2 linked regions of the Homo sapiens genome follow. The protein of the gene in region 2 purifies or fractionates together with the protein of the main gene of each other region. This does not show direct contact. Each region holds a gene or a part of one and is shown on either strand. Other genes may lie near its edges.

What was found.
Region 1: the proteins of ITLN2 (region 2) and OPRPN purify together in Homo sapiens (affinity purification with mass spectrometry; one large-scale study listed by BioGRID and IntAct). This does not show direct contact.

Annotation. Positions count from the first base shown.
Region 1 is NC_000004.12:70,404,440-70,408,284, forward strand, and holds part of OPRPN (opiorphin prepropeptide isoform 1 precursor), read left to right. Parts: intron 1-3,845. UniProt on the Homo sapiens protein: Opiorphin is an endogenous inhibitor of neprilysin and aminopeptidase N. Inhibits the breakdown of substance P, Mca-BK2 and Met-enkephalin by neprilysin in vitro with IC(50) values of 29 uM, 33 uM and 33 uM respectively.
Region 2 is NC_000001.11:160,944,498-160,948,687, forward strand, and holds the end of ITLN2 (intelectin-2 precursor), read right to left. Parts: exon of another isoform or gene 4,154-4,190; intron 3,536-4,153; coding exon 3,432-3,535; intron 796-3,431; coding exon 643-795; 3' UTR 528-642; downstream 1-527.

The DNA.
Region 1 (3,845 bases), on a different chromosome or scaffold from region 2:
ATCCTTGACTCTATCACCTCCCAGATCCACTCCTTCAGCAAATATTGCCCACTCTGCCTTCAAAACATCATCTAAATCTTACCCTTTCTCACCACCCTCCTGCTACCATTCTAGGCCAAGCCATCATCACTTCCTACCTGTGGCAACAATAACTGATCTCTCTGCTTTCACTATTGTCCCTGCAGTTTATTCTCCACACAACAACCAGAAAGATGTTTTTCCAAAGTAAATATTGCCATATCATTCCTTTGTTCAAAAGCTTCTAATGGTTTTCCATAAGACTTAGAAGGCGGGGATACAAAGTCCTTACCCCTACCTACAAGACCCTGCTTTGTCCTCCCCGCACCTTAACTCCAATATATCTATGTAACAAAATTGCATTTATGCTCTTTAAATGTTTTACAAATAAATAATAATAAATTTAAAAATATCTGCCCTCATGGAACTCACACATTAAATCGTTTTTGATTATTTTAAACCATCAAATGTTAAAACTACAGAGAGAATATAATCAAATTTAAATATAGGTGGGCTGCATAATAATAATATTAAAGCTACCACTTATGGAGTGTTTAATATATGCCAAGAAGTATATTACAAAAGTATGCTGTTTAATCTCTCCAGAAATCCAGTGTGACAATTATTATTATTATCCTCTCTTAACAAATAAGTAAAATGAAACTCAAAATAGCCAATTCTCTATTCTGTTTCAAATAAGCTTATCATTTGTGAAGGTAATCCCCCCAAATGTAGACTCCTTAAGAAGGCATTTTCATCATTTGTCTAGGGTTATAATGTTCACTACCATTGGCCAGTGGAGGAGGGAAACTAGCTAGTGAAAAATTGTATTAAGAGAATAGGAAAAGATAAAAATAATAAGAATGGAGATCAGGGGTCAGCTATTTGCTGTAAGGTGTAATTTTTCACATGATTTCTCCCCACCTCTGCTTAGGGTCCAGAGAGCAGCTCATTGAAGATCACTTTGAACTTAATTTCCATGACACTGTACCATCTGGGTTTCCTCCTGTCTCTGATTTTCCTTCACTGGCTGCTCACCTTTCTCTTATTGATACCCAAGTTTCTGTCTTCAGCCATTTCTTCTTCATTACTTTCTTACTTATTGCTTTGACCCAACAGTGCTTTCCAAATCTATTTCTCCAGTTCTGAGATTTCAATCTGCATCTACAAACTTCCATGACTTTTCAAACTCAAAAGGATTAAAACTTAATTAATTTTTTTCCTCTTGACACCTATATCTTCATTAATGTTAGCAGCCATGACTTAAGATCTCAATTTCATTTGAGTCCACATTCATTTATTCAAAAACATTTACTAAGAACTTGGCCAGGCATGGTGGCTCACACCTGTAATCCCCGCATTTTGGGAGGCCAAGGCAGGTGGATTGCTTAAGCTCAGGAGTTCGAGACTAGCCTGGGCAACATAGCAAGACCCCATATCCACAAAAAATACAAAAAAAAAATAGCCAGGTATGGTGGTGCACTCCTGTGGTCACAGCTACTTGCGAGGCTGAGGTGGGAAGATCACCTGAGCCTGGGGGACAGAGGTTGAAGTGAGCTGAGGTCACACCACTGCACGCCAGCCTGGGTAGCAGAGCATGACCCCGTTTAAAAAAAAAATGTACTGAGAACCTCCAACGTGCCAGAAACTGGAGATAGAATGATAAACAATACAGAGACATTGTTTGAAGAAGTTAATAATTACTACACTATATAATAAGTGACTATAAGTATTATAATAGAAGTGCTAAAGCAACAAAAAGAACAAAGATACCTAACTTACTTCGAATTCCTCATACCTTTTATTATTCACAAAGGTGCCAGGCACTGACTAAGATACTAAAGACACAAAGCTAAAGAAGATACAACTTATTCCTTCAACAGCAGTAAAATAGCACATGGCCTAAAAGTGGAGAAAAATATCAAAACAAACAATTACTATCACTGTGAAAAAAAGTGATGAAGTTTGCTTTTGTCTCCAATAAAAGATTTACAAAAGTAAAATTTTGGCTGATTTTATATTGTATAAAGATATTTTCTGTACAATTCTTTTAATTATCATATCAAATTATTGGGGGAGAGGAGTGAAGCCACTTAAACATTTTGAAGGAAGAGCTTGCCAAGTGAATGGAAATTAGGGCAGGAGTGAAACATTCTCAGCTAGAGGAACTGCTTTTATGAAGGCACAGGGACTACCAAAAAGAGCTCGTTATGTTGAAAGAACTAGTACTAGTTCTACATGGCCAGAGTGAGGATAAAGAAGTGGCAAAAGATGAGATTGGATGGCGGTATAGGCTTTTGTTTGGTTGCAAAGAACAGGGTTCCACTCACAATATTTATTCTTGCATTTTTAGGGCTGCCTTAGTTTGCTGCACCAGTTCTAATTTATATTTATTCTTGCATTGACTTCCTTTTTCCTTAAAGGAAGGAAACATGCCTGGCCAGGTTCTCAATAAATGTTTTCTTCCTTCCTTAAATAAGAAAGTCAATGCAAGAATAAATATAAAGTAGAACTGGCACAGCAAAAGCAGGCAGCCCTAAAAACCGGTCTTTGCTTCTCATGGCAACCCTGCTTTTCTCTGTACTGTTCCCTCCCTGAGATGTGCTCTCTTTACTCACAGTCCCTGTGTCCTTATAGCTTAGTTTGCACGTGGCCCTTATTAATGCTCCAGCCTCTGTCTGGCTCCTCTCATCTCACAATATTCACATTTTAGTTCCTACTTCTAAGTAGGATATCTCAATATTTCCTATTTCAAGTTACAAAGAGAAAGAGAATTTTATTAACGTGGCTTATTTTTCTTCTTCTGGCCATAAGGCCTAAGATCCTGGATAGCCAGTGGTTTGGAAGTCCATGGAACAATAGCCCAGAAATAACCCAAATAAATGTGTTTATGTTTATGTTACAAGAATAAAAGGTGATGACTAAGACAGGACAGTCCCTGGAAAGGGAGAAAACATAGATATAAAATATACAGAGGAATTGATCATGTGACCATGACATCACTATGGCTCCCTCTGAAATGACTTGGAATTTTTGAGTTGTCACTGATCTTTGTAAGAGATTCAGTTAAGTTGTGTGATGGGGACAGTAACCAGATAAAAGGGAAATTGAGAAGTGGAGACAGAAAATCTAAACCAGCCTTCCTTACTATCTGGCTAGGAATGGAGAGAGATAAACTAATAAAGAAAGCTTCAAGGGTACCCTAGGTTAAGAATGAGATTCTTTAATACATGAGATATCAATCAATATTATAGACAGGAAGAATACAGCCAGGGATTAGAAAGAGGTTTATTTTACAAAAATAAAAGAGAAGAAAGACCCTAGGGACAGAGAAGATGTAGATATAAAACACAGGTGAAGAGACTGGTCTTAAACAGGAAGAGAGAACAGCAAGATATTTATGAGTTTTATAGGCATAGGGCAGGAAAGTGAAGAAGTTCTCACGTATCATGGCCTAAATTATGTGAATTAGAAGGCAAGATCATCTTCTGATGGGTGTAGAGGGGAGCAAGAAAAGTAGAAGTGAGGTATAGATGCTGAGAAGATAGCCTTTTGGGGAAAATGGGAGGAAATGATTTAGCAGTGCTGATGCACCAGACAAACACAGACACTATAGTTCTCTAGTGTTGCTACCATTAGAGATTGTGGCATTCTCCAGCAATGTTCATCACCATGGAAGTAGGACTAGGGAAGGTAGTTTGCATAGAGTTGATCCAAAAGTTTGATGTTTCTGAAGGCAATATGGCAGAGACACAGGAAGGAGTTGAATGTTGTAGGGGAATGATTAGAGTCTTGCACCTTCCTAAAGCTTTGTTTCAGGCAAACTG
Region 2 (4,190 bases):
TTTTTTTTTTGGGTAAAGTTTTGCTCTGTCACCCAGGGTGGAGTACAATGGCGAGATCTTGGCTCACTGCAACCTCTGCCTCCCTGGCTCAAGCCAACCTTCCACCTCAGCCTCCTGAGGAGCTGGGACTACAGGCACGCATTACTTCCTAGCTAATTTTTGTACTTCTTGTAAAGATGAAGTTTTGCCATGTTGCCCAAGCTGGTCTCAAACTCCTGACCTCAGGCAATCCACCTGCCTCGGCCTCCCAAAGTGCTGGGATTACAGGCATGAGCCACCATCCCTGGCCCAGAATGTCTTTTTATTTTTCAATTTTTTTATATCTTTTTGCTAATCTTCTCTGTATTGTTCCAATTTTAGTATATGTGTTGCTGAAGTGAACATTTATTTTTATTCAATGGGTTCTTCCTAGCCACTGTGCAAGCCCAGAATATGTGAGGTGGAATTCACCAGAACCATAGGTATTCTTTTAAAATATCCCTCAACACATCAGCCAATTTATAAAAAGAATTCAAAGAAACATAGAGTTGCAAATTGATGTGATTTAGTCTCCTCTCCTCCTTGTTAGAATTCCAGTTTTTCCGTCTCCAAATAGCCGGGGTTGGAAGATGGGTTCTCGCCCTGACACCGCAGAGCTCTGTCTCATCTATAGAACAAGAGTACAGCCGCCTCCGTTATCTCCCGACTGCAGCTGCTCTTAACGTGAGTTCCATATCCATCCCAGTCAAAGGCGGAGAAGTCCCCACACTGACGGGGTTTGCCCTGTGGGAAGAACCCTCCTCCACCGATGCAGTGCTGGGAAACAGAAAGAAGAAACACTGTGAGGAATTTGATTTGCTGCTGACACCAGTGAGCGCAAGGCTGGTCTCGAACTCCAGACCTCAAGTTATCCGCCTGCCTCGGCCTCCCAAAGTGCTAGGATTACAGGTGTGAGCTACCACACCTGGCCCTATGCATGTATTTTAAAGTAGTAATGCATGCAGGAACATACACAAACACGCACTAATGGACAGTCTGAGGAGCACAGAGCCAGTAGAGAAACTTGTCAAGGAAAAGGGCATAAAGACATATACTCTAGTCCACCCCCACTGCCCACGTGGTCGTCATCCTCCGAATTCTAATCTGCGAGTCCCTCCATGAGAGAATAGCTGCCTCATCTTAGCTGGAAAATGAAAAAGCTGAAAGCTGGGGCAGGGAAGATGGAACCGTGAGTTCAGACTGTCAGTTGGGGAGGGAAGGGGGCCCTAAGTGAATGCCCTTGTTCTTGATGGCTCTGACGCTCTCTTCCTCCAACCCCTAGGCACAGGATGTCCCTCAAATACAATCTCCCACCACTACAACTGTGGTGCTGTCTCCTACAAGACTGGAAAAACAATAAAAATATAAAGCTTCTAAAAGTTAAGATTAATATTGGAGAATATTTTCACGACCTCGGTGTAAGGAGGTACATCTTAAAGAAAACATTAAAAGTACTAACCATAAATGAAAAGTTTGATAAACTGAATTCCATTAAAATAAATTATACTCAGCCGGGCACGGTGACTCATGCCTGTAATCCCAGCACTTTGGGATGCCAAAGTGGGCAGATTGCCTGAGGTCAGGAGTTTGAGAACATGGAGAAACCCATCTCTACTAAACCCATCTCTACTAAAAATACAAAAAAATTAGCCGGGTGTGGCAGTGCATTCCTGTAATCCCAGCTACTCAGGAGGCTGAGGCAGGAGAAACACTTGAACCCGGGAGGCAGAGGTTGCAGTGAGCAGAGATCCTGCCATTGCACTCTAGCCCAGGCAACAAGAGTGAAACTCCCTCTCAAAAAATAAATAAATAAATACATAAGATTTAAAAGACAAATAAATTATACTCAACTTCTGGCATCTACTACTCCAAACTTTGTACCACTTAATTTTTATTAAAAATATGGACTCTTCAGGCTGGGCGTGGTGGCTCACGCCAGTAATCCCAGCACTTTGGGAGGCCGAGACGGGCGGATCACGAGGTCAGGAGATCAAGACCATCCTGGCTAACATAGTGAAACCCCGTCTCTACTAAAAATACAAAAAAAATTAGTGGGGCGTGGTGGTGGGCCCCTGTAGTCCCAGCAACTCGGGAGGCTGAGGCAGGAGAATGGCATGAACCCGGGAGGTGGAGCTTGCAGTAAGCTGAGATCGCGCCACTGCACTCCAGCCTTGGTGACAGAGCGAGACTCTGTCTCAAAGAAAAAAAAAAAGAAAGAAAAGGACTCTTCAAAGAAAAAAAAAGAAATAAAAAATAAATTATATTCATAAGACATCATCAGGAGAGTAATGAGAGTAAACAGAATGAGAGTAAGCGAGTAACCACAGAGACACACATTGATACACCCCACACAGGTACACACATGTGCATACCCATGCACACACATGGTGAAGGGGGCCAGCCCCTCCACATCTGTGGGTATTTCTCGTCAGGTGGGATGAGAGACTGAGAAAAGAAATAAGACACAGAGACAAAGTATAGAGAAAGAACAGTGGGACCAGGGGACCAGCACTCAGTATACGGAGGACCTGCTCCGGTGCCAGCCTCTGAGTTCCCTCAGTATTTATTGATCATTATTTTTACTATCTTAGTGAGGGGAGTGTAGCAGGGCAACAGGTAAGGAGAAGGTCAGCAGGGAAACATGTGAGCAAAGGAATCTGTATCATGAATAAGTTCAAGGAAAGGTACTGTGCCCGGATGTGCACATAGGCTAGATTTATGTTTCTCTTTACCCAAACATCTCAGTGTAGCAAAGAGTATCAGAGCAGTATTGCTGCCAGCATATCTCGCCTCCAGCCACAGGGCGGTTTTCTCCTATCTCAGAATAGAATGAATGGGAGTGGTCAGCTTTACACCCAGACATTCCATTCCCAGGGATGAGCAGGAGACAGAAGCCTTCCTCTTACCTCAACTGCAAAGAAGCCTTCCTCTTTCACTACTCCTCCTCAGCACAGACCCTTTACGGGTGTCAGGCTGGGGGATGGTAAGGTCTTTCCTCTCCCATGAGGCCATATCTCAGGCTGTCTCAGTGGGGGAAAACCTTGGACAATACCCAGGCTTTCTTGGGCAGAGGTCCCTGCGGCTTTCCGCAGTGCATTGTGTCCCTGGTTTATCAAGAATGGAGAATGGCGATGACTTTTACCAAGCATACTGCCTGCAAACATATTGTTAACAAGGCACATCCTGCACAGCCCTAAATCCATTAAACTTTGATTCATTACAGCACATGTTTCTGTGAGCACAGAGTTGGGGCTAAAGTTACAGGTTAACAGCATCTCAAAGCAGAAACAATTTTTCTTAGTACAGATTAAAATGGAGTTTCTTATGTCTTCCTTTTCTACATAGACACAGTAACAATCTGATCTCTCTTTCTTTTCCCCACACGTGGGCCATTGATCTCCCCAAAAACTCACATGCTCAGTGTTACAGCCAGTAACTTTTATCCCAGCACAAAGGGCGTTGGCTGCTCTCTCGTTATTAAACACCCGGAACTGAACGAATCCTGCAACAAATTCCCCTGAAAAAGAAGAGGTGAAGAAACAGCCAAGTAGTCAAAGGATGAACTAGAAGCAGCATCCCATTGGCCAGTCCAGGGATTCCCTAAGCCAAAAGCTGAGGCTACAGCCAAACACCCCAGGCTGTAGGGGTGCAGCCCAGTACCTTTATGGCCAGTGGCTGGTGCACGTCAGTCCTAAACTTGTCCCCAAGGAAACCTCTGTTCATAGGGGGCAAGAGGACAAAGGCTGGGACTCACAAAAGGACCCAGGTCTGCTTACAGCTTACAGGAGAAACTAGACTCTACAAAAAGATTACCAAAAAGATCTGAGAAGGCCCAGCAGGAATAAGCAATGATCAGATGTGGCTGCCTATTGCTGTTTACACACTTCTCATCCAATTACCATGGGTTAGTTTCCCTGACCATCACCTGCTTTCATCAAAATATCAAAGGCAAACAGTGATGTCTTTGATTTTTTTATCCACAACTTAACTTCTGTGCTCTTATTATACTGAAAACTGTCTTTTGTAAGATAATTAAAGTTATCCTTCATAACAAAAGTAAATCTCTCTCACCACTCTGCTAGTGGTTCTTTCCTGTGAACCTCAGTGTGCACTTTTTTTTTTTTTTTTTTGACAGGGTTTCGCTCTTGTTGCCCAGGCTGGAGTGCAGTGGT